Regions from separate parts of the Homo sapiens genome. Here regions 1, 3 and 4 are each linked to region 2. The links come from fine-mapping of genetic effects on gene expression. A gene starts in region 2. Each other region holds a variant in brackets. All regions are shown on one strand. Distances are from middle to middle.

The links.
Region 1: its variant is fine-mapped to the expression of IRF2BPL in whole blood (TOPMed, PIP above 0.99).
Region 3: its variant is fine-mapped to the expression of IRF2BPL in whole blood (TOPMed, PIP above 0.99).
Region 4: its variant is fine-mapped to the expression of IRF2BPL in whole blood (TOPMed, PIP above 0.99).

The regions. Positions count from the first base shown.
Region 1 is chr14:77,045,878-77,053,435 of GRCh38, forward strand. All of the region lies in intron 1 of LINC02288 (long intergenic non-protein coding RNA 2288), which reads left to right. Among named protein-coding and RNA genes, the nearest start is that of LINC02288, 8.6 kb to the left of the region's middle. RefSeq lists an enhancer at 7,149-7,558 and a silencer at 7,524-7,558. The variant G/C (reference allele first, on the strand shown) is at 3,879.
Region 2 is chr14:77,026,623-77,032,235 of GRCh38, forward strand. It overlaps IRF2BPL (interferon regulatory factor 2 binding protein like), which reads right to left and starts at 2,086. Exons shown (of 1, transcript NM_024496.4): 1 at 1-2,086. The coding sequence starts at 1,170. It overlaps LOC107984638 (a long non-coding RNA gene), which reads left to right and starts at 846. Exons shown (of 4, transcript NR_190002.1): 1 at 846-1,189; 2 at 2,666-2,858; 3 at 3,039-3,114; 4 at 3,205-4,950. It overlaps LOC105370579 (a long non-coding RNA gene), which reads right to left. Exons shown (of 2, transcript NR_169510.1): 2 at 4,937-5,613. RefSeq lists silencers at 1,216-1,715, 1,836-2,045, 2,246-2,375 and an enhancer at 3,139-3,659.
Region 3 is chr14:76,959,483-76,965,621 of GRCh38, forward strand. It overlaps LINC01629 (long intergenic non-protein coding RNA 1629), which reads left to right and starts at 156. Exons shown (of 3, transcript NR_133913.1): 1 at 156-271; 2 at 2,849-3,125; 3 at 6,133-6,139. RefSeq lists enhancers at 1-46, 1,129-1,663, 1,664-2,199, 1,984-2,193, 2,244-2,293 and 2 more. The variant G/A (reference allele first, on the strand shown) is at 2,332.
Region 4 is chr14:77,072,908-77,080,465 of GRCh38, forward strand. LINC02289 (long intergenic non-protein coding RNA 2289) reads right to left here and starts at 3,284. Exons shown (of 3, transcript NR_110553.1): 1 at 3,198-3,284. RefSeq lists a silencer at 3,139-3,433. The variant G/A (reference allele first, on the strand shown) is at 3,497.

The DNA of each region.
Region 1 (7,558 bases), 20 kb after region 2:
ATATATCAGAAACATCTGTCTATACACAAAACCAGAAAGCTACTGGGGAGGTGTGCATAGATGAGGTACAAGAGCAAGGGGGACCTGCAGGACCCATCACTGATAGATGTGGCTTTTTTTTTTTTTTTTGAAACAGGGTGTTGCTCTGTCGCCCAAGCTGGAGTGCAGTGGCATGATCTGGCTCACTGCAATCTCCACCTCCTGGGCTTAAGTGATACTCCTGTTTCAGCCTCCCGAGTAGTTGGGATTACAGGCGCACGCCACCATGCCTGGCTAATTTTTGTATTTTTAGTAAAGATGGGGTTTCACCATTGGGCCAGGCTGGTCTCAAACTTCTGACCTCAGGTGATCTGCTCACCTTGGTCTCCCAAAGTACTGGGATTACAGGCGTGAGCCATTGCACCTGGCCAGATGTGACTCTTGAAAGCAAAGGCAGCTTATATTTCCTGGAAATACACTTCATTCAGGTTGGTTCACGGGCAAAGGAGACAGAAGTTGCTCCTTAAGGAGAATGCCCTGGGCGAGGGCAGAGCTGCCAGCCACTCTGCAATGGTAGGGCTGCTGCACCCACTGTGGCCAGGAGAACCTCAGGAGAGGTGAAACAATCAGAGGGTTGTGGTGATAGAAACTAGAGGACACAGCTCCCAGCTCTCCTCGCCCCGTTAGTTTGAAGACTGTTACCAGCAGCACTGTCGTGGTTCTGGCAGTAAAATCTCCTTCCTTTCTACCCAGGGACATACCGACTCCGGAAAGCATCTTTCCTACAGCAGGTTGGGAAGGTGCTTAACAGCCCAGACTTTAGGATATTAATAGCAATGATGATAGGCAAGGCTGACATTTATTGGGCACCTCTTATGTGTTGGACATTGTGCTGGCTGTTTCAATGCATTATCTCTTCTAATCCACACTTAATGAAGTGGATTCAGTTATCGTCCCCATTTTATAGATGAAGCAACTGAAACTCAGAAAGGTTAAATAACGTTATCTTAGGACACACAGCTAGTAAGTGTTGGCTGAAGTTTGAACTCAGGGTTGCCTGACTCTAGAGGCCTTATCAGACAGATCTGGGTTTGATTCTTGACTCATGAGACTTTGTGACCTGTGCCAAGTTTCTGCACCTCCAGGCTTCCTCATCTGTTTTCATTGTTAGACACATCAAATATTGGCAATTTCATGTAATTTAGCCTAAACCTGCCTTACAACATTGCTTTAAGGCAGGGTGTGGTGGCTCACGCCTGTAATCCTAGCACTTTGGGAGGCTAAGGAGGGTGGATCACGAGGTCAGGAGTTTGAGACCAGCCTGACCAACACGGTGAAACCCCGTCTCTACTAAAAATACAAAAATTAGCTGGGCGTGGTGGTGCGCACCTGTAATTTCAGCCTCTCAGGAGGCTGAAGCAGGAGAATCGCTTGAACCCAGGTGACAGAGGTTGCAGTGAGCCGAGATCGCACCACTGCACTCCAGCCTGGGCGACCGAGCGAGACTCCATCTCAAAAAAATAAAAAATAAAAATAAATAAATAAAAATTTTCCAGGCGCCTTACAGGATCAAGACAAACTCCTTAGCTTGGAACACAAGGCCTCTGGGAAATTGCCTCCAATTCCTCTTTTTGCCTCTTCCTTTTTCTTAATTTCTAACCACATTGAATTCCTCTTGTTCCTTAAACACAATATGAACTTTGAAGCCCCGTGCCTTTACGGGGCTCTTTTCTCTACCTACAAAGAATGTTTTCTCCCTCTTGTTTTTTGAGCAAACTTCTATGCATCCTTCAAAACCCAGCTCAGTTTTTACCTTTCCTGTGAAAATAGTCTCTGGCATTTCCCAGCTCTGTGCTTCAATTGCAATCTGCATTTATCACAAAGAGTTGTAGTTGGCTGGGCGTGGTGGCTCACGCCTGTAATCCTAGCACTTTGGGAGGCTGAGGCAGATGGATCACCTGAGGTCAAGAGTTCGAGACCAGCCTGGCCGACATGGTGAAACCCCGTCTCTACTAAAAATACAAAAATTAGCCGGGTGTGGGGCGCCTGTAATTCCAGCTACTCGGGAGGCAGAGGCAGGAGAATCGCTTGAACCCCGGGGCGGAGGTTGCAGTGAGCTGAGATCGCACTATTTCACCCCAGCCTGGGAGAAAGAGTGAGATTCTGTCTCAAAAAAAAAAAAAAAAAAAAAGTTGTAGTTATCTGTTCACACTGCCTCACTGGGGACTCAATGAAGTTCAATGCTGGGGCCATTCTATCCCGAATGCCTCTAGAAGCCCCTAAATAAAGGCTAGTCAATTAAACATGCCTAAATATACATTTTTATGACGTAATTTTATTGTCACCAAAATAATATGGAAGTGTATGTATGTATGTACTATTTATACCCTTCCTGTCCCAGCAAAATCTTGGAGCATTCTACTCAGAAGTAGAGATATAATAGTGCTTAGTATATCATGCAGTAGAGTTGGGGCTTTGGAATCAAGTATTTCTGGGTTGAAATCGTAACTTGGTCTCTTACTGTGCCATTAAGTCATTACTTTATCTCAGCCTCAGTTTTCCCACCTGTAAAATGAAGATAACATTAATTACCCATGAGGCAGACACTGTTGATTGCTAAAAAGTAGTCACTCCTGCTTTCTTCCTTAGTGCCCTGAATTTGTTTCAGGAGTCCCACACCCCTCAGTTCCACGTGCCTTGGGGGGAAATCCCAATTAGTCTGAGCTAATCTTAGCATCCCATCCCCCTTGCTAACACTTTGGGGATGGATCTGTGACCGAGTTCTGGTGAATAAGACATGGGAGTTGGGGGCTTGTTTTAGGAAATATTTTCATATTTTCTCAATCTTTTTTTTTTTTTCTTTTTTTTTTTTTTTGAGACGGAGTCTTGCTCTGCCGCCCAGGCTGGAGTGCAGTGGCGCGATCTCCGCTCACTGCAAGCACTGCCTCCCGGGTTCACGCGGTTCTCCTGCCTCAGCCTCCCGAGTAGCTGGGACGACAGGCGCCCGCCACCACGCCCGGCTAATTTTTTGTATTTTTAGTAGAGACGGTGTTTCGCCGTGTTAGCCAGGATGGTCTCGATCTGCTGACCTCGTGATCCGCCCGCTTCGGCCTCCCAAAGTGCTGGGATTACAGGCGTGAGCCACCGCGCCTGGCCATATTTTCTCAATCTTAAAACATGAGAGAGAGAGAAACAATTGTCTTTCTTTCTTTTTTTTTTTTTTTTTTTTTTTTTTTTTTTGAGACACAGTCTCACTCTGTCACCCAGGCTGGAGTGAAGTGGCGGGATCTCAGCTCACTGCAACCTCCACCTCTGGGGCTCAAGCGATTCTTCTGCCTCAGCCTCCCAAGTAGCTGGGATTACAGGCGCCTGCCACCATGCCCAGCTAATTTTTGTATTTTTAGTAGAGACAGGGTTTTACCATGTTGGCCAGGCTGGTCTCGAATTCCCGACCTCAGGTAATCCACCCACCTCGGCCTCCCAAAATGGTGGGATTACAGGCATGAGCCACCGCGCCCAGCCAAACAATTGTCTTTCTGTAGCTGTATGTGTGTCTGCAGTGATGATGGCTGGGGCTACAGCAGCCATCTTGCTATGATGAAGGCAGCCATTCAGAGAACTAAGTCAACACACTAAAGATGATAGAATGGAGGCCGGGTGCGGTGGCTCACGCCTGTAATCCCAGCACTTTGGGAGGCCGAGGTGGGCAGATCACGAGGTCAGGATATCGAGACCATCCTGGCTAACATGGTGAAACCCCGTCTCTACTAAAAATACAAAAAATTAGCCGGGCATGGTGGCGGGCCCCTGTAGTCCCAGCTGAGGCCGAGGCAGGAGAATGGCGTGAACCCGGAAGGCGGAGCTTGCAGTGAGCGGAGATCGCGCTACTGCACTCCAAC[G/C]TAGGCAACAGAGCGAGACTCCGTCTCAAAAAAAAAAAAAAAAAAAAAAAAAAAAAAGAGAGATGATAGAATGGAAGGAAATGTGGAAAGAACATTAGTCTGGTGGCACAGTTCAGCAGCTGGATTACTCTGCCCTGGAGCCACCCACATCTGGACTATTTCCATCAATTCCTTCATTGTTCAGTGAGGGACCCCTGGCTCGATCCAGTGGAACCAAGGTTTCTGTGACTTGCAGCCAAAAGCATCCTAACAATCAACTTCGCAGGGTTGCTGTGATGACTAAATAAAGTAAAATTGGCCAGGCGAGGTAGCTCATGCCTATAATCCCAGCACTTTGGGAGGCTGAGGCGGGTGGATCACCTGAGGTCGGGAGTTCTAGGCCAGCCTGGCCAACATGGTGAAACCCCGTCTCTACTAAAAATATAAAAATTAGCTGGGCATGCTGATGGGCACCAGTAATCCCAGCTACTTGGGAGGCTGAGGCAGGAGAATCACTTGAACCTGGGAGGCAGAGGTTGCAGTGAGCAGAGACCACGCCATTGCACTCCAGCCTGGGCAACAAGAGGAAAACTCTGTCTAAAAAAAAAAAAAAAAAAATTGAAAAAGTGCCTGACAGGGTCTGGCACATAGTAGGTTCTCAAAGATTGAAGACTCTCCTGCTGAGATGTTCTGGGATGAATGCACGAATGACTATGAAGAGTGGTCCAGAGAACATGGCAGATGGTAATAAAGGTTAGAGCAGTTCAGAAGTGGGTGGGTGCTAGAACGATGAAGATGACAATGACGATGAAATTCAAACATTATGTTAGTAAATGTCCTAATGGAACTTCTTGGGGCTGTAACAATGGTTCTCCTTTTTACTTCTAATGCCTTTTCTTACCCGGCTCAGAATTAGACATTGCATATACAGGCTTTTCTAATTGTAAGTGGCCACGCTTGTACAATTAGGGTGGTCCTTAATTACCCTGGGGCATGGAAGCCCTGCTACAGGATAAAGGCAAGAGTGTACTTTTTTTTTTTTTTTTTTTTTTTTGAGACAGAGTCTTGCTCTGTCACTCAGGCTGGAGTGTAGTGGCACGATCTCTGCTCACTGCAACTTCCACCTCCCAGGCTCAAGCGATGTTGTGCCTCAGACTCCCAAGTATCTGGGATTACAGGCGTGTGACACCATCCGGCTAATTTTTGTATTTTTAGTAGAGACGAGATTTTGCTATGTTGGCCAGGCTGGTCTCGAACTCCTGGCCTCAAGTGATCCACCCTCCTCATCCTCCCAAAGTGCTGGGATTACAGGAATGAACCACTGAGCCCAGACTTTAGCGTATAATTTGTAGCTCCAGGAGGAGCCAAGATTTGAAAGCAGAACCATCATACCCACACAACGTAAAGCAGGGCCTTTGACTTGCCAAAAGCACACCAAGTCCGTCCTCCCTGAGAGACCCAGAGAAGCCCAGCAGACCTCTCCAGCTCGGGTGGGGCTGCCTCTGGGGGCTGCCTGGCTTTTGGCCAGCTGACCAGGCCATGGAGTGTTGCTCCCTGCCAGCCCCACAGCCCTTTCGAACCTCGTTCCAGGAGAGCTCAGCCACACCAGTGTCTGCCAGACTCATGTCCGTCCAGCTGTGTGGGCGGCCCTGGCAGCAGGGGACAGGGCAGGGTTTGTGCAAGGACATTGTGGCACCCACAGCAGGGCGTGGGAGAGGCGGTGGCTCACTTCAGGGACGAGTCAGGAAGGAACGTGGAAGAGATGGGGAGCAGAAGCCACAAACTCAAGGCAGCCTCAGCTGCCTTCTCAAAGGCCGCCTTCACCTTAGAAGCTTGTTCCAGGGTCTCCTTTCCTGCTTGCCCCTCCCCTGTTGAGCTGGGTTCAGCACAGCCCTGCTTCGATGCTCAATTCTTTTTTTTTTTTTTTTTTTTTTTTGGCAACAGAGTTTCGCTCTTTCGCCCAGGCTGGAGTGAAGTGGCGTGATCTCATCTCACTGCAACCTCTGCCTCCCGGGTTCAAGTGATTCTCCTGCCTCAGCCTCCCAAGTAGCTGGGACTACAGGCATGCACCACCACGCCCGGCTAATTTTATAATTTTAGTAGAGACGGGGTTTCACCATGTTGGCCAGGCTGGTCTCAAACTCCCGACCTCAGGTGATCCACCCACCTCAGCCTCCCAAAGTGCTGGGATTACAGGCATAAGTCACCGCGCCTGGCCACTGACGCTCAAGTCTGTTCACCAAATCTTTATTGAGAATACTTTATGTAAGATGCCATATTCCTCCTGGCTAATGGTGGGGTGGGGTGAGAGATACCGAGAGCAAGATCAGAGTAGAAAGGACCTCAGAATGGCCTTTAAACTTGGGTGCCTCAGAACTCCAAAGCCCAAGTATTTAAGAAAGAAAAAAAGACTGCTGCAGTTTAATCTAGGGCAGGGATAGGGTCCTGTCCACTCTGCCTTGAGTCAGAGACTCCATGGATAACATCCAAACAACCCTGACCCAGACCAGGGGGGGATATAGAAGCCCAGAGAGGTGAAATGACCTCCCTCAGTCACACAGCAAGTTGGAGGCCCACTCAGGTTCAAAGTCAAGCCCAGTGCCTCGTCCATTGTACTGTCCTACCCCTTGGCACTTGTTTCAGAGATCAGCTGCGGAGATGGGGCGAGTCACCCAGGAACAGACAGACACACTTGCTACAGACTAAAGAGAACAAGTGGTTCTAACTCAGGATGGCAAAGGCTCCCCGGAAGAGGGGCAGGGAGCCGGGCCTAGGGCAGCATGGGCAGGATTGCTCATGGCACATGGCAGGGGTGGGGAGAGAGGTGGATGTGAGGAAGGAGGCAATTCCAGGCCTCAGAGAACATGATCTGCTAGCGCCTGAAGAAAGACTGGCAATCCAGAGAGCTGGGTTCCAGCCCTGGCTCTGCCGTGACAAGCCCCTGGGCCAGGGGCCTCCCCTTTGGGCCAGTTTCCTTGCATGTAAAATGGCAAAGAGGGTGGGCTAGTTGGCCCTACTGTGACATGCTAGGAAGCCTTCTCTCCTCCCACCACCACCAACACCACCCAGGACACTCCCCAGTGTGTGCCAGGTGTCTGGAATTGACACCAGGAGGGAGTGTCCCTGGCTGCCCTGTGGCACAGCATGGAGCTGGCAGGCCTGCCCAAGGTGTCTGCCCAGAGCTCTGGGAAACAGTGACAAACCATGAGGAGGCAGGAACTGGAGAAGAACCCGGGCAGGAGCCATTCCTCTTCTGAGAAGTGGTCTTTCCCATCTGGCCCTCTCCAGAAGCTCAGGCCTCTGCCAGGACTTGTTAGGGTCCCACCACCCCAAAGAGGCGAGGCCTCAAGGGTAGAGGGGTACGAGTCCCTGAACAACCCCAAGCCTCAGTATTCTCATTTGTAAAATGGGTAAAAATAGCACTTTAGTAGTCTCATTTGTAAAATTGATATCAGTACCTCAGATGATGAAATGAGATAATGCGTGTCAAGGGCCTAGCACAGCGCCTGGTGTAGGAGCCACACGTCCCAGAGGGCTGCCTGCTGGGGAAGACCGCATAATTTGAAGCCTCCTGACATAAAACAGGCTGGTTGAGGGAGGGCCCTTTCTGTCTAATACACCACTCGTCGGGACAGGATTGCAAAGGGGGCCTGGGGAGGTGAGCCCACTGGAAAACAATGTGTGCGCGCCCCCTGCTGGCT
Region 2 (5,613 bases):
AACCTCGTAGGGCGTGCAGCCTGCCAGCGTGAGCAGCGTGTCGCGGACCATCTTGGGCTTGCTGGCCCACTCCTCGGCGCGGTTGCGCAGGCTCTCGCTCAGCTCGGCCAGGGCCTCGGCGTTGCGCTGCTTCTCCTTCAACTCGCGCTCCTGGTCTGTGCTCGACACCGAGCCGGGCCTCTTACCACCAGCACCCACGCCCACCTCTGCCACCGACGAAGAGGTCGAAGACGACGCGGAGGACGACGTGGCCGATACACCCGGGGTACCCCCGAGACAAGCGGGGCCCCCAGGAGCCCCTGGGGGAGCAGGCGTCGGGGGCCCACGGCTGCCCAGGGCGTGGGGAGGGGGTGGGGGGAGTACCGCAGCGCTGGCCGGGCCGTTAAGCAGCGTCTGCGGTAGCAGGTTGGGGGGCACGGTGAGCTGGGGGCCTCCGCCACCCCCCGGGTTGGGCAGCCCCGTAACCAGCCCACCGTGCGTTCCACGCCGAGACGCCACCGACGCCGCCGCTGAAGAAGAATTGGGGCTCTGACGGTTCAGCTCTGGGGGTCCCTCCTCTGGTGTTGGTTTGGGGAAGCCGTTTGGGCCCCCCAGGCCGTTGGGCAGTCGCGCGGTGTGGCTGCTGCTTCCCAGGCTCACCGGCGGTGGCGGGTACTCGAAGCGGCTGCGCTGTTCCACCGCAGCGGCGGCGGCGGCGGCGGCGGCGGCGGCAGCGCTTAGGCCGTAGCGCTCCAGGCCAGACGGGGCCGCCAGCACCGCAGGCTTGCTGGAACCATCAACGTGGTTGAGCTGTTGTTGCTGCTGCTGCTGCTGCTGCTGCTGCTGCTGTTGCTGCTGCTGCTGCTGCTGTTGCTGTTGCTGTTGCGCGGCGGCGGCGGCGGCCGCCGCTGCTGCCGCCGCCGCCGCCGCTTCCTTAGCCGACAGGGCCACTGTCTTGACCCCGACGGGCGGCGGCGGCCCGGGGGAGCGGCCGTCCTGGAAGCAGCCGTGCGCCCGCTTCAGCTGGCGCGCTGTCTCGATCACGAATTCGATGCGATCAGCGCCCTCGTAGTTGACGCAACCGCGGCATACGGGTTCCGAGAAGTCCCAGATCATGGCCCAGGGCATGCGGGGCAGGTCGCACAGGTAGCAAGATTGTCTCCGGGACGAGGACACCTGCGCCGCCGACATGATGCCTGCCCTGGGGAAGGTAGGCCCCCGCCCGGGCTGTCTCCGCGGCGCCTTCTCCTCCGGGAGGACTGGCCGGCTGGGGAGGGAGTCCGACTGCGGGGGAGGGAGGAGGGGGGGCGAGAAAGTTCTGCCCCAGGGGCTGGAGGGAACGCGAGTCTCCACCGCCGGCGCAGCGCCTCGCCGTGGGGGCTCCACCGCCCGGGCAGCGGACGGGTTCAGCCCTCTCTTCGCCCCCACCTCCTACTGCGGTTGACTCGTCGCGAGGGGAGCTCAGGCGCCTTCTTCCTGGTGCTGCAGACTTGGGCTGGAAGCTCCCGGCCCGAGGGGAGGGGGCGAGGGTGCCCGGTGGTGGCCGCCGTTGCCTCTTGGCCCCCTCCCCGGAGTGGCTGGTGCGTGGAAGCTCGAAAGGGGCTGTCTCTTCCTCTCCCCGGGGACCCCCCTACGAGCTGCGTCCTCTCCCCGACGGGCCCCCTGGGGCGAGGGCCAGAGGGTTCAGTGCCACCCGGTGCCCGGGTCCAATCTTGCTGAAGCCGCTGCTTCCCCGGAGGACCGGGGGAGGGGGTGGCAGCCGAGAAAGGACCTTCTCCCCTCCGCAGCGTCGGCCGTTCTGCTGGCGGCGACTGGGTTTGCACCCCGGAGGGAGCCGCCGCGGCCACTGCTTCCAGGACGCACGAGAGCAGAGGAGAGGAGTGCACGCACGCAGGCTCCCGCCGCCCCCAGGCCTGGCCGGCGCCCGGGCCGCCGCGGCTGGCGGCGCTCACGTTGGCTGCAGGGCGCTCGCGCGGCGCCTCGGCCCGGGTCGCATCCCTTCCCGCTCGTGCTCACGCTCGCCCGGAATGTGGGGTTGTGATTGTTACTCTACGTTCCGGAGGCGCGTCTCGGCGCTCCTGCTCCGGCTGCGGCTCGCGCTGTCCCCGGCTTGGCCGCGCGGGATGCCGCCCGGGCGGAGCGCTGACGTCACCGCCATGCTCTGCACCAGTTCTTCCCCCTCCCCTTTACACTTCCTCTGTGGAGCCCACTTGTTGCTCAGGCAAGGCGCATGCGCGGCAGGACGCCCAGATTCCTCCCAGCCGGCCCCTCCTCCGCGCCTCCGCCCTCCCCTCCCCCCTCGCCGTGTGTGTACAACAGCTGAGGCCCGGCGAGCTAATGCTGGAAGTCCAGAGCTGGGGGTGGAAATTAAACAGACGATGACCTTTCCTTTCCCTGCCGGGCATTCCCAAGTAAAAACGCATTTAAGAACCACTAGCGTCGTTTCCGATCCCTGCTCCCCACCCCACCCCCAAGCCTCGGCAGTGAATTTAAATGTCCTGTTTCAGGATTTTTCGCCGTGAATTTCGTATAAGGTATTAACCATTTCATCTGCGGTTGAACCTTATCCCCCCCGGCATGGATGTTAAATTCATCGCCACCACTGATGCCGAAGCACCTGCAAAATTAGCTGTTTTCCAATCTTCCAGAAATTGTCTTTTCTATTTGTTTTTGTGCCCTGATCTAGGAACCCGGGCTTCAACGATAGAGCTAAATGAATTCAGAGTGCGCTACCCTTCCCCCCAGCCGCACTTTAAAAATTTTGGCTGAACGTCTGAAGAAGATACGAGCACCCCGAGGCCTTTAAGGAAAACAGGCAACTGGCTGCGCACAGCTGCAGTTCAGGGCAGGGAGGGGGAGGGGCCGGAGAGGCCAAACAGGTGAGTGTTTTTTCTAGAGTTTGATTTTTAAAAGGTGGAGGCAGCATTTAATAATACTGATACATTTTTGTAAAGCACAGCCGCAGTTTTCAAAGTTCTTTCTCAGGCGCTGTGATCTCACTCCATGTTGCCCCAGAAGGCGGAACAAGGCCGTGATTTTTTTTTTTTTTTTTTTTTAAGACGGAGTCTTGCTCTGTCGCCCAGGCTGGAGTGCAAAATGGCGCGATCTCGGCTCACTGCAACCTCTGCCTCGCAGGTTCAAGCGATTCTTCCGCCTCAGCCTCCCAAGTAGCTGTGATTACCGGCACCCGCCATCAGGCCCAGCTAATTTTTTGTATTTTTGTAGAGACATGGTTTCACCATGTTAGCCAGCTGGTCTTGAACTCCTGACCTCAGGTGATCCTCCCGCCTCGGCCTTCCAAAGTGCTGGGATTACAAGCATGAACCACCACGCCCGGCCAAGGCCGTGATTTCTTCTGCCTTACAAGATCACTGCTCATCAGTATTGCTTATGGCACGATGGATATGTTGGTCATAGCTCTAGTTGGGGCATTTCTATTGATTATTCTAATTATTGGGTTTGCTTTTTTTTTTTTTTTTATTTCATGAAAACTGAGATAATCCCAGGGAAGGCTGGAGAAGGGAAAGCAATATAATGGGATTTCGGATTCTGAAGTGTGGCCCACCAGATTGAAATTTCCTCTCCATCACTAACTGGCTCTCCACCCTTAAGCTAGTTACCCACAAAATCTCTCTTTTCCATGGAAAAGAGAATGGAATGATAGCTCCCAGGTTGTTAGGGTTGTTTGAGATTTCAACTTCGGTTTTTTGTTTTTTTGAGATAGGATCTTGTTCTGTTGCCCAGGCTGGAGTGCAGTGGCACACTCGCGGCTGGCAGCAGCCTGACCTCCCAGGCTCAAGTAATCCTCCCACCTCAGCCTCCCTAGTAGCTGGGACTACAGGCATGTGCCATTACACCTGGCCAATTTTTTTGTATTTTTGGAAAGGGATGGGGTTTTGCCGTGTTGCCCAGGCTGGTCTCAAACTCCTGGGCCCAAGTGATGCACCCACCTTGGCCTCCCAAAGTGTTGGGATTACAGGCATGAGCCACCTCACCCGGCCTCAATTTGTTTCTTGTCATAAGAAGAGATAACGCTTACTTAGACTTGCCGTGGGACCTTAGTAAACTAGGTGGCTTTACTTGCATCACCCTTAATATTATCTACATTATTAAGGGGATATTATCTATAGTATTTTGTTGTTGTTTTGAGACAGAGTCCACTCTGTCACCCAGGCTGGAGTACAGTGACGCAATCTCAGCTCACTGCAACCTCCACCTCCCAGGTTCAAGCAATTCTCCTGCCTCAGTCTCCCAAGTACCTGGGGATACAGGCGCCCGCCACCACACCCAGCTCATTTTTGTATTTTTAGTAGAGACGGACTTTCACCATGTTGGCCAGGCTGGTCTCGAACTCCTGACCTCAGGTGATCCTCCCGCCTCAGCCTCCCAAAGTGCTGGGATTACAGGCATGACCCACCGTGACCGGCCTATTACAGTATTAAACCCTTAATATTATCTACAGGGTAGATTCTTTTACCTCCATTTTACAAACCAGGAAAGTAAAGAGGCTATATAACTTGCCTACAGCCATTAGTGATGGGGCTGGGATTTGAATCCAGTAAATCTGATTTGAGGTGTCTTTGACAAGCTCAGGCTTGCAGAGGTGGTTTGGGGTGCTCAAAATTCCCATCAGCCCCAGTTGATTTGGTGTTACATACAATCTTACGTAAGTACTATGCCAATACACCTTCATAACCAACCCCCAGCCTCCCCTTCCAAGCGCATTTGTACCACTGAGTTCTATATACAGAAGTTGTAGATCTGTCACTACCAGACTGTAACTTAAATACACCATACAGAATGGAGAGCAGTGTTGGACTCACAGTTAGTGTTAGTTATTATTAGTATTGATACTAGTGTTGGTACTATTGCTGGTTGACATGTGACAGTACTTAGTAAACTGCATAAATTGTGAGGATCACTATTATCACTCTTATTACTAGTAATTGCAATAAAGTTCAGTGGAAGCAACAAGAGATACTTACTTTTATTTTGACACTTGACTTCCAGAGCCTGTTCCCCTATCCAACCCTCCCCAGAGCCCCAATCTCCCACTCATTCTGGGGCCCCTGAGTGCAAAGGAAAGGCGAGTTTTTAAGGACAGAAGAGGAGGAGGAGCCCTAGGGAGCCCCTCTTTCATCTCAAAGCAGCCAGATTTCTGTTTTTGCAAAACAGTGAGCTCACTGTGCACTCTAGAGCAATAATAAACTTTCTCTGGCCTGCTGGCACTTTGCAGTGATTCCTCTGCAAAGAGTTGCTTGGGGAGCATTGCCTCACTCTCCCAGACTTCAGCCCTCCCCACACTACCGCTACCCTGGAGTGAGTCAAAACATAGGGGTGGGAAATGGTTTGACATCCCCGCCAGCCTGGGGCTCCTTAGCTTTGGCTCGGTTGGGTGACCCATTTCTTTACATTAATATTTATTCAGCCCTTCCCTTTATTAAACCAAAAATATTAGGGAAATAGCAACTTAGCCACAACCCTCCAGCCAGGCTGCTAGAGAAAGCAAGTTGGATTCTATGTCATGGTGTTATGTTTGGTATGCACACACATATGTCTCCATCTCCCTGTCTGTCTCTGTCTTCACTGTTACTAAAGGAGATATATATACACACATACATGCTGGGGTGCCTT
Region 3 (6,139 bases), 67 kb before region 2:
GGGGCGGGCAGTGGGTGGCTGCAGCCTGTCCTTACATGGGGCTAAAGGGGCCCAGCCACTTAGTGACTCACCCACTTGCCCAGCCAGCTGAAACCCTGGCCTCACCCTTCCCTTCTGCTACCTACAAAAGCCCCCTGACATAGCACTCTTGTCATACTGAGACTAAGGTAGAAAAAGACACTTCCAAAGGGTGTCAATGACAAGAGAGAAATAGACATAGAGTGGTCACTTCATTTACCAACCCTGGAACCGCAGACCTCTGGGCTTCCTGGTATGTGATTTCAGTTTTACCCCTCACTGTTTAAATTGCTTGAGTTATGTATTTTGTTATTGATTTATTTATTTATTTATTTATTTATTTTGAGACAGCGTCTCTCTCTGTCGCCCAGGCTGGAGTGCAGTGGTGCGATCTCGGCTCACTGCAACCTCCGCCTCGCGGGTTCAAGCGATTCTCCTGCCTCGGCCTCTCGAGTAGCTGGGATTACAGGCATGCACCACTACACCTGGCTAATTTTGTACTTTTAGTAGAGATGGGGTTTCGCCATGTTGGTCAGGCTGGTCTCAAACTCCTGACATCAGGTGATCCGCCTGCCTCGGCCTCCCAAAGTACTGGCATTACAGATGTGAGCCGCCTCACCCGGCTTGTATTTTGTTCTTGCAGACGAAAGCTGCCCACCAAATATGAACAGATAGGAACCTCGTGATCTTTTGGGGCTGTCATCCTTCTCTCAGTCTGCCAGTAACTGGGATCCTGGCATTTATCCTGGAGGTCCCTGAAGGTCCAAGAGGGAACAGAGGAAATCTGATTGGCACAGGTGTGGTGACGTGAAGCAGGTGGTGGCTTTTAGGACTGGAGGTCTGGTGTAGGGTGTATTAGTGAGGAGAACATGGAGGGAGGAACTCACCAGGAAAATTGCAGCCAATTTCCAGCGGTCAGGAATTGAAGATCCAGCAGAGTACGGAATCAGCTCCTCCAGAGTAGTGGGTTTTTCCAGTTGTAGGTTGAGATCCATTCGTGGGTCATGAAATCAAGTTAAGGGATCATAGTCATACACAGAATTTTTTTGTTTGTTTGTTTTTGAGACAGTCTCATTCTGTCCAGGCTAGAGTCTCTAGTCTCTGCCCAGGCTAGAGTGCAGTTTCACAGTCTTGGCTCACTGACCTCCACCTCCTGGGTTCAAGTGATTCTCCAGCCTCAGCCTCTCAAGTAGTTGGCGTTACAGGCACCTGCCACCACATCTGGCTAATTTTTTGTATTTTTAGTAGAGACGGGGTTTTGCCATGTTGGCCAGGCTGGTCTCGAACTCCTGGCCTCAAGTGATCCGCATGCCTTGGCCTCCCAGAGTGCTGGAATTACAGGCGTGAGCCACCACGCCCAGCCAGAATTTTTTTTAAAAAAAGGAAATAGAAGAGAATGTAAGAATAGAAGTGCAGGTTAAAAGGAACGTTTAATTTCATAAAGTTTTTGCCTCAGGGTAGTATGCTTGTCTGAGTAATGGGTTGAGATAGGAACGCATTTCTTAGTGCAGGTCTTGATTTCAAATGTTCGAAAGCCACTGCTCTGGAAAATAGAGGAGTGGAGACCAAAGTGTGCCCTTTGTGTATGTGTCGGCAGTGGGGTGGGGGTGGGGGTCTCTGTCCTAGCATTTGGTTGCAGCACCCCAGGAGTGCCTGTAGGGGAACCACTGACCTCCACTTTTCCATACGCTTCACACCTTCACACCGAAATGTGCTCCATTCCCTTTGCTATTTTTTTTTCTTTTCTTTTTTTTTTTTTTAGACAGAGTCTAGCTCTGTCGCCCAGGCTGAAGTGCAGTGGCACGATCTCGGCTCACTACAACCTCTGCCTCCTGGGTTCGAGTGATTCTCCTGTCTCAGCTTCCTGAGTAGCTGAGACTATGCCTGGCTAACTTTTGCAGTTTTAGTAGAGACGGGGTTTCACCATGTTGGCCAGGCTGGTCTCAAACTCCTGACCTTAGGTGACCTGCCCACTTCAGCCTCCCAAAGTGCTGGGATTACAGGCGTGAGCCACCTCACCCAGCCTGCTATTTTCATTAGGAGGAAAAGAGGGATGGTAGCTTTCATCCAGATCCCCCATCTTCAGAATGTTTTCAACTTTCCCCAGAACCTCCACAGCGTTAAGTCAGTCAAAATCCTTGGATGGACCCTTCCAAGTAGCAAGGGCCACCCTGTCCCCTTTCCCCTGGCCATGAGACCACGCAGAGCGCAGGGGCCGGAGTCAGAAAGGGCAGTTTGGCCCCTGGGCAGTCTCCTGAGAGTCTTTCTCCTCCCAGTTTCTACTATTTGGCGGAACCTTGAATGCAGGGGGGC[G/A]GGACAGAGAAAAAACTAGAAAGCTCGACTTCTGCCTGCGGGGCCGGAAGCCCCGCTGCGGCCCCAGCCCGCGGTTAGCCCCTGTTTGTCATTTTGCAAATCTGGTCAACCCACCTCCGGTGAAAACTCCCAACCTCACCCCAGGGGGCAATGACTAATTACAAAACACATTTTCTCTCGTTTTCGTCAAGCTCGCTGTCCCGCCCACACATCCCCCGCCTATCCCGGCACCCGTCGGCTTCCTCAGGAGCCTCACTCAACTGTGTTGAATGAACTCTTGGCCTGGTCCCTCCCCCAGAGACTTCACACCGTGGGGTTCTTTCCTCCCTGCTCAGCTTTACTTTCACTTTCTAGTCACTCTCACTTCTCTGTCAGCTTCAGCTTCTCACCCTAGAGCTTGAGCCCTGGTCCTTTCTTAAGGCAGGGGCTATTGCCCAAGTCCTGGGCTGCACCCAATTCGTCAAAAGTCTCGATTCATCAATAGTCAAAAATATTTATCAAATGCATTCTGTTCCAGGCTCTAGGAATGCAGTGCAAGACAGGCAAGGTTCTTGCTCATACAGAGCTTCTAGAAACCTGGGATACAGAGATGCAATCAAGTGATAAAACACATGGATGAAGGCTCTGCCATTGAACACATGGTTCTTGACAAGCCCACAGAGAGGCACAGCTAAGCCAGCCCTGGGGAGCCAGGGAGGGTTCCCTGGAGGGAGAGAAGCTGGATCCAGGTCTGAAAGATGACTTGAAGTCAGCCATGAGCAAGGAAGAGATTTTCCAGGCCAAGCGAACAGCCTGTGAGTGGTGCCATTTGGGTGAGGCTGGCTGGAGCTCACAGGGTGGGAGGGAGTGCAGGGAGCTGGGGTCCCCAAAGGTGGAAAGAAGCCAGACCCAAAAGGACTTTGAAATTCTGCTCAGCCATTTGGATTTTGTCCTGAGGGTGATGGAGATTTGTGAGCCCCAAATATCTGAGACAGGTCCCAGTCCCTTTAGAAAGTTTATTTTTGCCAAGGGTAAGGACAAGCCCATGACACAGCCTTAGGAGGTCCTGAAGACAGGTGCGCAAGGTGGTCAAGGTACAGCTTGCTTTTATACATTTTAGGGAGATATAATACATCAATCAATATATGTAAGATTTACATGGGTTCTGGCCGGGCGCGGTGGCTCATGCCTGTAATCCCAGCACTTTGGGAGGCCAAGGCAGGAGGATCACCTGAGGTCGGGAGTTCAAGACCAGCCTGACCAACATGGAGAAACCATCTCTACTAAAAATACAAAAAAATTAGCTGGGTGTGGTGGTGCATGCCTGTAATCTCAGCTATTCGGGAGGCTGAGGCAGGAGAATCATTTGAACCCGGGAGGCAGAGGTTGCAGTGAGCCAAGATCACGCCATTGCACTCCAGCCTGGGCAACAAGAGCGAAACTCCATCTCAAAGAAAAAAAAAAAAAGATTTACATGGGTTCGATCTGGAAGGACGGGACAACTCGAAGTGGGGGGCTTCCAGGTCATAGTTAGATTTGAACATAAACTGATTGGCAATTGGTTGAAAGAGTTATTGTCAGCAGAAAGGAATCTCTGAGCTATGATAAGGGGTTGTGGAGACCTAGGTTTTATCATGCAGTTGAAGCCTCCAGTAGCAGGCTTTCGAGAGAATGGACTGTAAATGTTTCTTATCAGACATAAGGTTTGTGTTGATGTTGATGTTAGGGGTATAATGAGGCTTGGCTTCCCTTCATGGCCTGAACCAGTCTTTCAGGTTAAATTTTAGACTGCCCTGGCTGAGGAGGAAGTCCATTCAGATGGCTGGTGGCTGGGGGGTGAGGGGTGTGGGGTGTTCCATACACAGCCATGGAAGGGCCTCAAGCCAGAGAGACATAATAAATGGAAGTGGGAGGCAAGACTGGACAAAGAGAGACCCGTCAAGAGTTTGTTACAGGCCGGGTGTGGTGGCTCACACTTGTAATCCCAGAACTTTGGGAGGCCAAGGCAGGCGGATCACGAGGTCAAGAGATCGAGACCATCCTGGCCAACGTGGTGAAACCCCGTCTCTACAAAAATTAGCTGGGCATGGTGGCACGCGCCTATAGTCCCAGCTACTAGGGAGGCTGAGGCAGGAGAATCGCTTGAACCCAGGAGGCAGAGGTTGCAGTTAGCTGAGAGGGTTCCACTGCACTCCAGTCTGGCGACAGAGCCACACTCCGTCTAAAAAAAAAAAGAAAAAAAAAGAGTTTGGTTGTTGCAGTGGGAAGATGTGAATGGACATGAGAGATATATTTAGGAGACAGGATTGTGGATATGGAGGTTAGAGGAAAGGAAGAAGGGAAGGATGACTCCAGGTTTCCTGCACAAACCATGGTCCCCCCTGTTCCCTACAGGAGGAAGAGTTGGAAGAAGAAGAGCGATAGATAGAGAGAGGAGACAACAAGGTCCCTCTGGGACAGGCTGAATTCCAGATGTCTGTGGGACACTAGGCCATTGGCTATGGTGGTCTGAGACCCTAAACAGGGGCCTGGGATAGGGTTTTAGTCTGGTCACCATGTACACACGGAGGCAGGGTATAGAGTGAGAAGATGGGATGATTGAAAGGCCTGGGACACGAGCCAGGGAAACGCAGGATAGAAATGACTGGCAGAGGCTGGGCACGGTGGCTTACGCCTGTAATCCCCACACTTTGGGAGGCCGAGGTGGGTGGATCACTTGAGGCCAGGAGTTCAAGACCAGGCTGGCCAACGTGGAGAAACCCCATCTCTACTAAAATACAAAAAATTAGCGGGTCATGGTGGCATGCACCTGTAATCCCAGCTACTCAGGAGGCTGAGGCAAGAGAATCTCTTGAATCCTGGAGGCAGAGCTTGCAGTGAGCTGATATCACGACACTGCACTCCAACCTGAGCGACAGACCAAGACTCTGTCTCAAAAGAAAAAAAAAAAAAAGAGGTGACTGACAGAGAATGACCCCAGCAAAGGACCAGAGAAGGAGCAGTCCACGGAGGACCACTTGGAGAGGGTGGGTGGGGGGAAACCCAGCTCACAGGAGAAGGTGTGGCCGATGGTGTGGCATGCTGCTGAAAGGCCAGGTAGGTGAGAACAGTGGTGAGCACTGTTTCAGTGGTGGTGGTGGCGGAGGGAGAGTGACAAAAAGCATTTGGTTCTGAGCCTGGGAGTAGCAGGCTGGGGGAGGAGCCTAAGGCTAGGCCGGCTCTCAGGAGCAGTGTGGGCCCCAAATATCCTCTTCTGTGATCTTTTTACCTTTTGGCAAAGTGTTATTTAAATGTATTTAAATCTTTTAAGGAAATATTTCTAATTTTGTGCCAAAATAAAGCACTGTAAATCCTAGCCACTGTTCCTTTGCTTCCCCAGGGGCCGCAGTGACTGTGTCCAGTCCTTCCTCACCCCGCTGCAGAGTCAGTCCAGGAGGCCTTTACCCACAGCACTGCCACCTCCCTCCACGACCCCTGTCTTTCTCTTCCCCAGATTAAACGCTCCCACTTCTCTCCATTCTTCTTTCTCCACCCCCAGGCCCATTTCTGCCTCGGTTGCCTGCCTCCAACCACAATCCAGTTTTTTGGCTCCCAGAGACAGACATGCCCAGATCTGAACACCACCCACCTGGGTATGTTCTGCCAGTGTGCAAGGTGGGGCCCTCCAGGCCCTCTCCTCCCCTCCCTTTTTCTAGATGCCATTTCCTGCTAAAGCCACCTCTCCCATGGCTATAAACTACCTTCAATCAGGGCACGAACTCTAGAGCACAAGAGAACCTGAGATTCTTTAAAACATTCTAGTTTAATGTCCTCGTTTTACAGATAAAGA
Region 4 (7,558 bases), 47 kb after region 2:
TCAAAGGATCTCCAAAGGGAGTTATTTAGCTAAGATGGCAGAGCAGAAACAAGATTCCAAGACTTTGTACCCTGCCTTTCCATAGAGAAATTATTATTCAAAGAGTAGTATCCCAGCAGGATTCAAGTTCATGCCTCCAGGTATCTTTAGAGACCCTGGTACCATGAGCCAGCCTCTGTGTAGTTCAGGAAGCGCAAATTCAAGACTAGAAGTGGGGTGTCTGGATTCTAGTTCCAGCTCTACCTCCCACTGTTCTTGCAGACTCTTGAACTTGGTCCTCTTCTTGTCTCTTCAAGGTCATACCACTGAATGCTTCTCCTCTTCAGTGCCTCAGTGATGTCTCTCTTTTCCCTTCCCTGCAAAGCAGTGCTGTCCTTCTTGCCCATAGTGCTCTACTAGCAGAGACCATAATGACCACTGGTTAAGTGATTAAGAACAGGGCTGTTCATTTCTTTTTTTTCTTTTTTTGAGATGGAATTTCACTCTTGTTGCCCAGGCTGGAGTGCAATGGTGTAATCTTGGCTTACCACAACCTCCGCCTCTCAGGTTCAAGTGATTCTCCTGCCTCAGCCTCCCAAGTAGCTGGGATTACAGGCATGCACCACCACACCCAGCTAATTTTGTATTTTTTTTTTTTTTAGTAGAGACGGGGTTTCTCCATGTTGGTCAGACTGGTCTCAAATTCTTGACCTCAGGTGATCCACCTGCCTCGGCCTCCCAAAAGACTGTTCATTTCTATAGCCCCAGTCTCTAATATGGCATCTGACACATGGAAAGTGCTCACTGGTGAAAGAGTAAGTGGGACAACTCACTATAAATGGCTGTGGGGCCCATTGCTGGAAATATCCCCAGAGAGAATAGCACTGGGGCCCCTAACCATTCCAAGTAATGTTTAAGAATTATAATATGGAACTCTTTCTGTTCCAAGTTACACTGAGGCCCCAATATGACAGATATCAGTATTAGTTATCTATTGCTACATAACAGATTACCTCAAAATTTAGTAGCTTAAAACAATAATAAACATTTATTATCTCAGTTTCTCTTGATGAGGAATTGGGGAGTGGCTTAGCTGGTGTTCTGGCTTAGGGTTTGTCATGAGGTTACAGTCAAAATGTCAAGTAGGGATGCAGTCATTTGAAGGCTTGACTGGGGCCGTATGATCTGCATCTAAGATGGCACGCTCACATGGCCAGCAAGATGGTGCTGGCTACTGGCAGGAGGCCTCAGTTCCTTGCCATGTGGACCTCTCCATGGACCTCCCTGAGTAGCTTCATGACATGGCAGCTGACTTCTCCCAGAATGAGTGGTTCAAGAGAGCAGGGAGGAGGTCACAATGTCTCTTATGACTATATTAGATCCACAGGGCTGCTGTAACAAAGTACCACAAGCAAGATAACTTAACAGAAATTTACTCTTTCACAGTTCTGGGGGCCAGAAGTCTGAAACCACATTGTCAGCAGGGTCAGAACGGTGGCACATGGAAGGTGCTCATTGGTGAAACAATGAGTGGGAAAGAATAAATCATTCCTTGCCTCTTCCAACTTCTGACGGCCGCAGATGTTTCTTGGCTTGTGGCTGTATCATTCCAATCTCTGTCTCCATCTTCACACGGCCTTCTCCCTTGTGTCTGTCTACTCTTTGTCTCTCTCTCCTTATGAGAACACCAGTCATTGGATGTAGGGCCCACTCTAGTCAAGAACAACCCTTGATTACAACTGCGAAGACTATTTCCAGAAAAGGTCACATTTATAGGCCCTGGGGGTTAGGGCTGCAACATATCTTCTGGGGGACATCATTAAACACACAACAATGACCTAGCCTCAGAAGATGCATGCCATCAGCTCTGCAATAGCAAGTGGCTACAAGGGTCGGCCCTGTTCACGGAGGGAGGAGACACAATGATGTGAATACCAGGAGATGGGGACAATGAGGGGCCATTGTGGAAGCAGGCTACCACAATATCATCAGATAGCAAACTGAACATGAGACAGACTCCCATATGTAGTATTTACAAAGGAAATAATGGGGAACCAGTTGCATAGCACTCAGGGCCCTCAGCCTACCAACAATATAGAGTGTGGAGAATGGGGAGAGTTTGGAAATAGAAACTTCCAGAAAGGGCAAAGCCATGCTGTAAGCTACCCCACCAAGGAGTTAGGGGCCCTACTGCTTTCAACTCAAGCCTAGTGATGGGGGCTTCCATGCAGCCACTTGGAGCTGTGGGCCCCCATGGGACTGTGCCAGGAGGGACTGCATTAGGATGAGTGAAGGGGCTGTGTGAGTTCTTCCCATGGGCCACATGTGGATCAGATGGACCATGGCAGGAGAGAGGGCCAAGGTGGGGGTCATTTTAAGTCCTGTAGGGCCTCTGAGAAGGGCAAAGGGATGTCAGCAGAAAGAAGTTGGAAGAGGATGCTGGATTTCTAGGGGTTGAAGATGGAGTCATAGCTGTACCTGAAATGGAGGTGCAGAACAGGGAACTTCAGGAGAAAACCTTAGAGATGGGAACTTTTTTTTTTTTTTTTTTTAAGACAGGGTCTCACTCTGTTGCCCAAGCTGGAGTCCAGTGGCCCAAACTCGGCTCACAGCAACCTCTACCTCCTGGGTTCAAGCAATCCTCCTGCCTCAGCCTCCCAAGTAGCTGGGACTACAGGCGTGCAGCACCACCCCCAGATACTTTTTGTATTTTTGGTAGAGATGAGGTTTAGCCATGTTGCTCGGGCTGGTCTAGTACTCCTGGGCTCCAGTGATCTGCCCGCCTCCGCCTTCCAAAGTGCTGGGATTATAGGCGTGAGCCACCAAGCCTGGCTGAGATGGGAACTTCTGAAGAACACAGGGAACCCTCCAGAAAGAGCTTTCACCATCTGCCACACCCAGAGAGCTGGCAATCATACAGTCAAGTAAAAACTGCCCTATTCCCCTGCTCCCCATCCGCTTCCCTGCATCCTCACCCACCACCTCCACTTAGACTCTGAAAGCAACCAGCAAGTGGGGAGAGGGGTATTCGGGAGAGAATAGACAAAAGCCACCATGCCCAGTCCCTGGCAGCTGGCAGCCCCCAACTAAGGCCTTAACTAGGGCAGGAGGAAGAAGATTTCTCTTTGAAGAAAAATGCAAGAGTCATTTAATATCTTTGGGTGGCTGCTTTAAATCTCTAAGTCGATACTGGATTTCGTGACATAAAATGTACATACCTAAGCATGACCAGAAGAGCCTCGGGGTCAGCTGAGCTTTCAGCCAGGGGAAGGGGAAATGCTTCCCTTGCTTTAGCTCAAATGCACAGTGAGAGCCAAAGCAAATTGAGTTACATGTTGGTTCCACCCCACATTCAAGGGATTGGTTTCACCGAATCCCCGCCTCCACAGGGAATTGGGTCTTATATTTCTTACCCCCAACCCTCCCCGCCATGGCAGAGCCACAAGGAGGTTCCTGAAGAAAATCCCTTCTCGGCTTTTGTGCAGAATTGAAGAATGTTTACTATGTTTTCCTTCCT[G/A]TCTCTCTGGAAATGACGCAAAGAATAACAACAACAAAAAAGAACTCCTTGTCCCGTGCAAAACACCCGCCCCTCCCCCGCCCCTGACCTCCTAACTCTTCACCCTGTGTTGGCCTGACTTCACCCTGGGATGGGGAAACTTCCTGGGAGGATATAGCTGACCTGGGAACAAAACTTGTTTTTTTGAAAGCTTTGTGCAACGTCAACTAAGTTGGGGGAGGGGTCTGGGCAAGGAAAGAAGAAAGCAAAGGGGGGCAGGGTGGGAACAGTTCTGCTAAACCAAACAATTCCCCAGGGATGATGGAGCTGTGGTGACCTGATAAGTCCTTTAAATGTCTTATTAATTACTGGGGGAAAAATTGGCTACTTCTGAGTCTCCCCTCTCTCACTGTCCTTGCACAAGCTTGGGACTAGCTCTGTCCTTTTTTAAGAGTCAGTCTTGGGCCGGGCATAGTGGCTCACTCCTGTAATCCCAGCACTTTGGGAGGCTAAGGCAGGAGGATCCCTTGAGGCCAGGAGCTTGAGACCAGCCTGGGCAACATAGCGAGACCTCATCCCTACAAATAATTTTTAAAAATTAGCTTGGAGTGTTGGTGTGTGTCTGTGGTCCCTGCTACTCAGGAGACTGAGGCAGGAGGATTACTTAAGCCCAGGCAGTGGAGGCAGCAGTGAGCTGTGATTGCACTATTGCACTCCAGCCTGGGTGATAGAGCAAGAACCTATCTCAAAAAAAAAAAAAAAAAAAAAAGAGTCCAGCTTTTTAAAGAAGGGTGCCCCTTGGTGGAAGACAACAGGACAAGGCAGGAGCTGGGGCTGCGGAGAGTCCGGGGTCTGCAGAGCATGGGGCTGCCATCAGAGACCCACCAGGCAGGTTCCTGCTCCTAGCAAGGACCCGGCTGAGCAGAGATGAGGGTGTGGAGGTGAACCTGGAAAACATGCAGAGGATTCTAGACACATTCCACAGTCAGAGCCTCTGGAAAGCCCACCTTCTCCATCACAGAGGCTTTGGGGAATAGACATCCTGTTTCTCTGTATTATTACAGCACAAAGCATTTATCATGCTGACAATGACAGTGACATTTCAGGACCTAAACAAGCTTAGTTGTTCACAGCTTACAGGAGAGAAGGCTCCTAACACTCTTTATTTATTTATTTATTTGTTTGTTTATTTATTTTGTTTTTGTTTTTTTTTGTTTTGAGACAGAGTTTCGCTCTGTCGCCCAGGCAGACAGAGTGCAGTGGCAAGATCTCGGCTCACTGCAAGTTCCGCTTCCAGGGTTCACGCCATTCTCCTGCCCAGCCTCCCGAGTAGCTGGGACTACAGGTGCCTGCCACGGCGCCTGGCTAATTTTTTGTATTTTTAGTAGAGGCGGGGTTTCACCGTGTTAGCCAGGATAGTCTCCATCTCCTGACATCTTGATCCACCCACCTCGGCCTCCCAGAGTGCTGGGATTACAGGCGTGAGCCACCGCGCCCGGCCTATTTATTTGTTTTTTGAGACAGAGCCTTGCTCTGTCATCCAGGCTGGAGTGCAATGGTGTGATCTCGGCTTATTGCAACTTCCACCTCCCAGGTTCAAGCAATTCTCCTGCCTCAGCCTCCCGAGTAGTCGGGACTACAGGTGTGCACTACCACAGCAGGCTATTTTTTTTTTTTTTTTTTAGTAGAGACAGAGTTTCTCCACGTTGGCCAGGCTGGTCTCGAACTCCTGACCTCAGACAATCTGCCTGCCACATGATTAGGTCCTGAGGGCTCTCCCCTCATGAATGGGATTAAGACTTTTATAAAAGAGGCCTGAAGGAGCTTGTTGACCCCTTCTGCCATGCAAGGACACAGAGGAGGCACCATGTATGAGGAATGAGCCCTCACAAGACACTGAATCTGCTGGCGCCTTGACCTTGGACTTTCCAGTCTCCAGAACTGTGAATGATAAATTTCCATTGTTTATAAATTACCCAGTCTAAGGTATTTTGTTATAGCAGCCAAAACCATCTACAGAGCACTAATGACAGTTTGGGCTGGATTATTCTTCGTTGTCGGGGCTGCCCTGTACATTGTAGGATGTTTTGGAATATCCCTGGCCTCTATCCACAAGATGCCAGTAGCGCCTCCCCCAACTCCATGACAAAACTGTCCCTTGGGGGCAAAATTACCCCTGGTTGAGAATCACGGCCAAGTAGCAGTCCCCATTCAGTGACCAGACAGCTAAGGAGATCCAGAGTGTAGTGCTGGGCCACACAGATGCTAAGGGAATTTATACTTCAGGAAAAAAAAAAAAAAGGCCAAGTCTATGTGGCCTTCGCATCAGTTATTACTCTCTCGGTTGCACTAAGTGACAGAAAATTCACCTCTAAATGACTTTAAATTGGGATGCTGTTTCATATAACTAAGCAGACCAGGGATTAGGCATTGTGCTGGTTCAGGCCAAGCTTGATCCAGGGATTCAAACAATATCACCAAGATTTGGCTTTATCTTTATCCCCGATGCTGCTCTTCTCCATAGCGTTTTCTTGTTGGGATAAGATGGCTGCCAGCAATCCAGTCCCACCTCTTCCTATGCCTGAGACTTGTGAGGAAAAAACATGAAGTGCTTTTCTTTTTGCAGTCCCAGCAAAAGTCTCATTCCACTGAACTGGCTCTGACTTGAACATGAATCCATCATCAAGCAAGACACCATGGCTGGGGAATGTGATGGCCTAAGTGGCCAGGTTGTAGTCACATAACCACTTCTGGATCTGGGAGTGGAGTCAACTCTGTCTGTGGGACATCAAGAATGGGGAAGTGGGGTTCCCAAGAGGAAAGTAGCATACTACCACTGGGAGACAGGTGAAAGGATTCTTGATGACAAAAAGCAATACATAGCTACCACAGTCTTTTTTTTCTTTTCTTTTCTTTTCTTTTTTTTTTTTTTTTTTGAGGCAGGGTCTCACTCTGTCGCTCAGGCTGGAGTGTAGTGTGAGATCTCAGCTCACTGCAGCCTCAACCTCCTAGGCTCAAAGAATCCTCCCTCTTCAGCCTCCAGAGTAGCTAGAATTATAAGTGTGCACCACCACACCCAGCTACTATTTGTATTTTTAGTAGAGATGGAGTCTCACCATGTTGCCCAGGCTGATCGCGAACTCCTGAGTTCAAGTGATCTGCCCACCTCGGCCTCCTGAAGTGCTAGGATTATAGGTGTGAGCCACCACACCTGACCTACCAAAGTCTTTATACCAAAAAGAAGCTCACTCTTAAATTGATTAAGGTGAGAGCTAAAAGTTTAAAGAAGACTCTGCCGAGTGGTAGTATAATACCTGTGCCATGATTGTCCAAATCAACCTCCAGGTGACAAACAAGAACTCTTTCAGGTATCTCTAAGATAAACTAGCATCTGAGATGGTTCATTCAGATGGATCTCTAAAATGGAGACTGCCAGAGTTTTACCAAGATTTTTCCTCCCATTTTTTCATAGTAACATATATGTAGTTGGGTCCATAGTTGCTCAGCTGGAGATAGCATTTCCCAATTTTCCTTGCAGTTCAAATCGTAGTACATGTGAGTCCCAGCCCTGGAGTGAGTAGTCACTTGGGGGACACCTTGCAGTTAGGTGTGACCACATGACTAAGTTTGCACTATATGGGCAGAAGAGATGATTACACCTAGGCCTTAAGATAGTGGGAATGCGGCAGGCTGAGACATGAGAATTGCTTGAACCCAGGAGGCGGAGGTTGCAGTGAGCTGAGATCATGCCACTGCACTCCAGCCTGGGTGATAGAGTGAGACTCAAAAAAAAAAAAAAAGATAGTGGGCATGTCTCATCCTTACTCTTTCCCCTTCCCTTGAACCAGAACATGATCTTGCCTGAGACCTAGCTTTGCCATGCTAGTAAAAATGATGCCCTAAGAGATGACAGGAAAATGCAAAGAACCTGGATCCCTGAATGACCTTGTGGAGCAGAGTATCCTGACAATCTGCAATGAATACCTCAAGTGAGAAAGAAATAAATTTGCCTTTTCTGAGAGACTAAATGTTGCATTACATCTATTCTAAGATCCATGTTTTTAATGTATTCTAATATCTTTG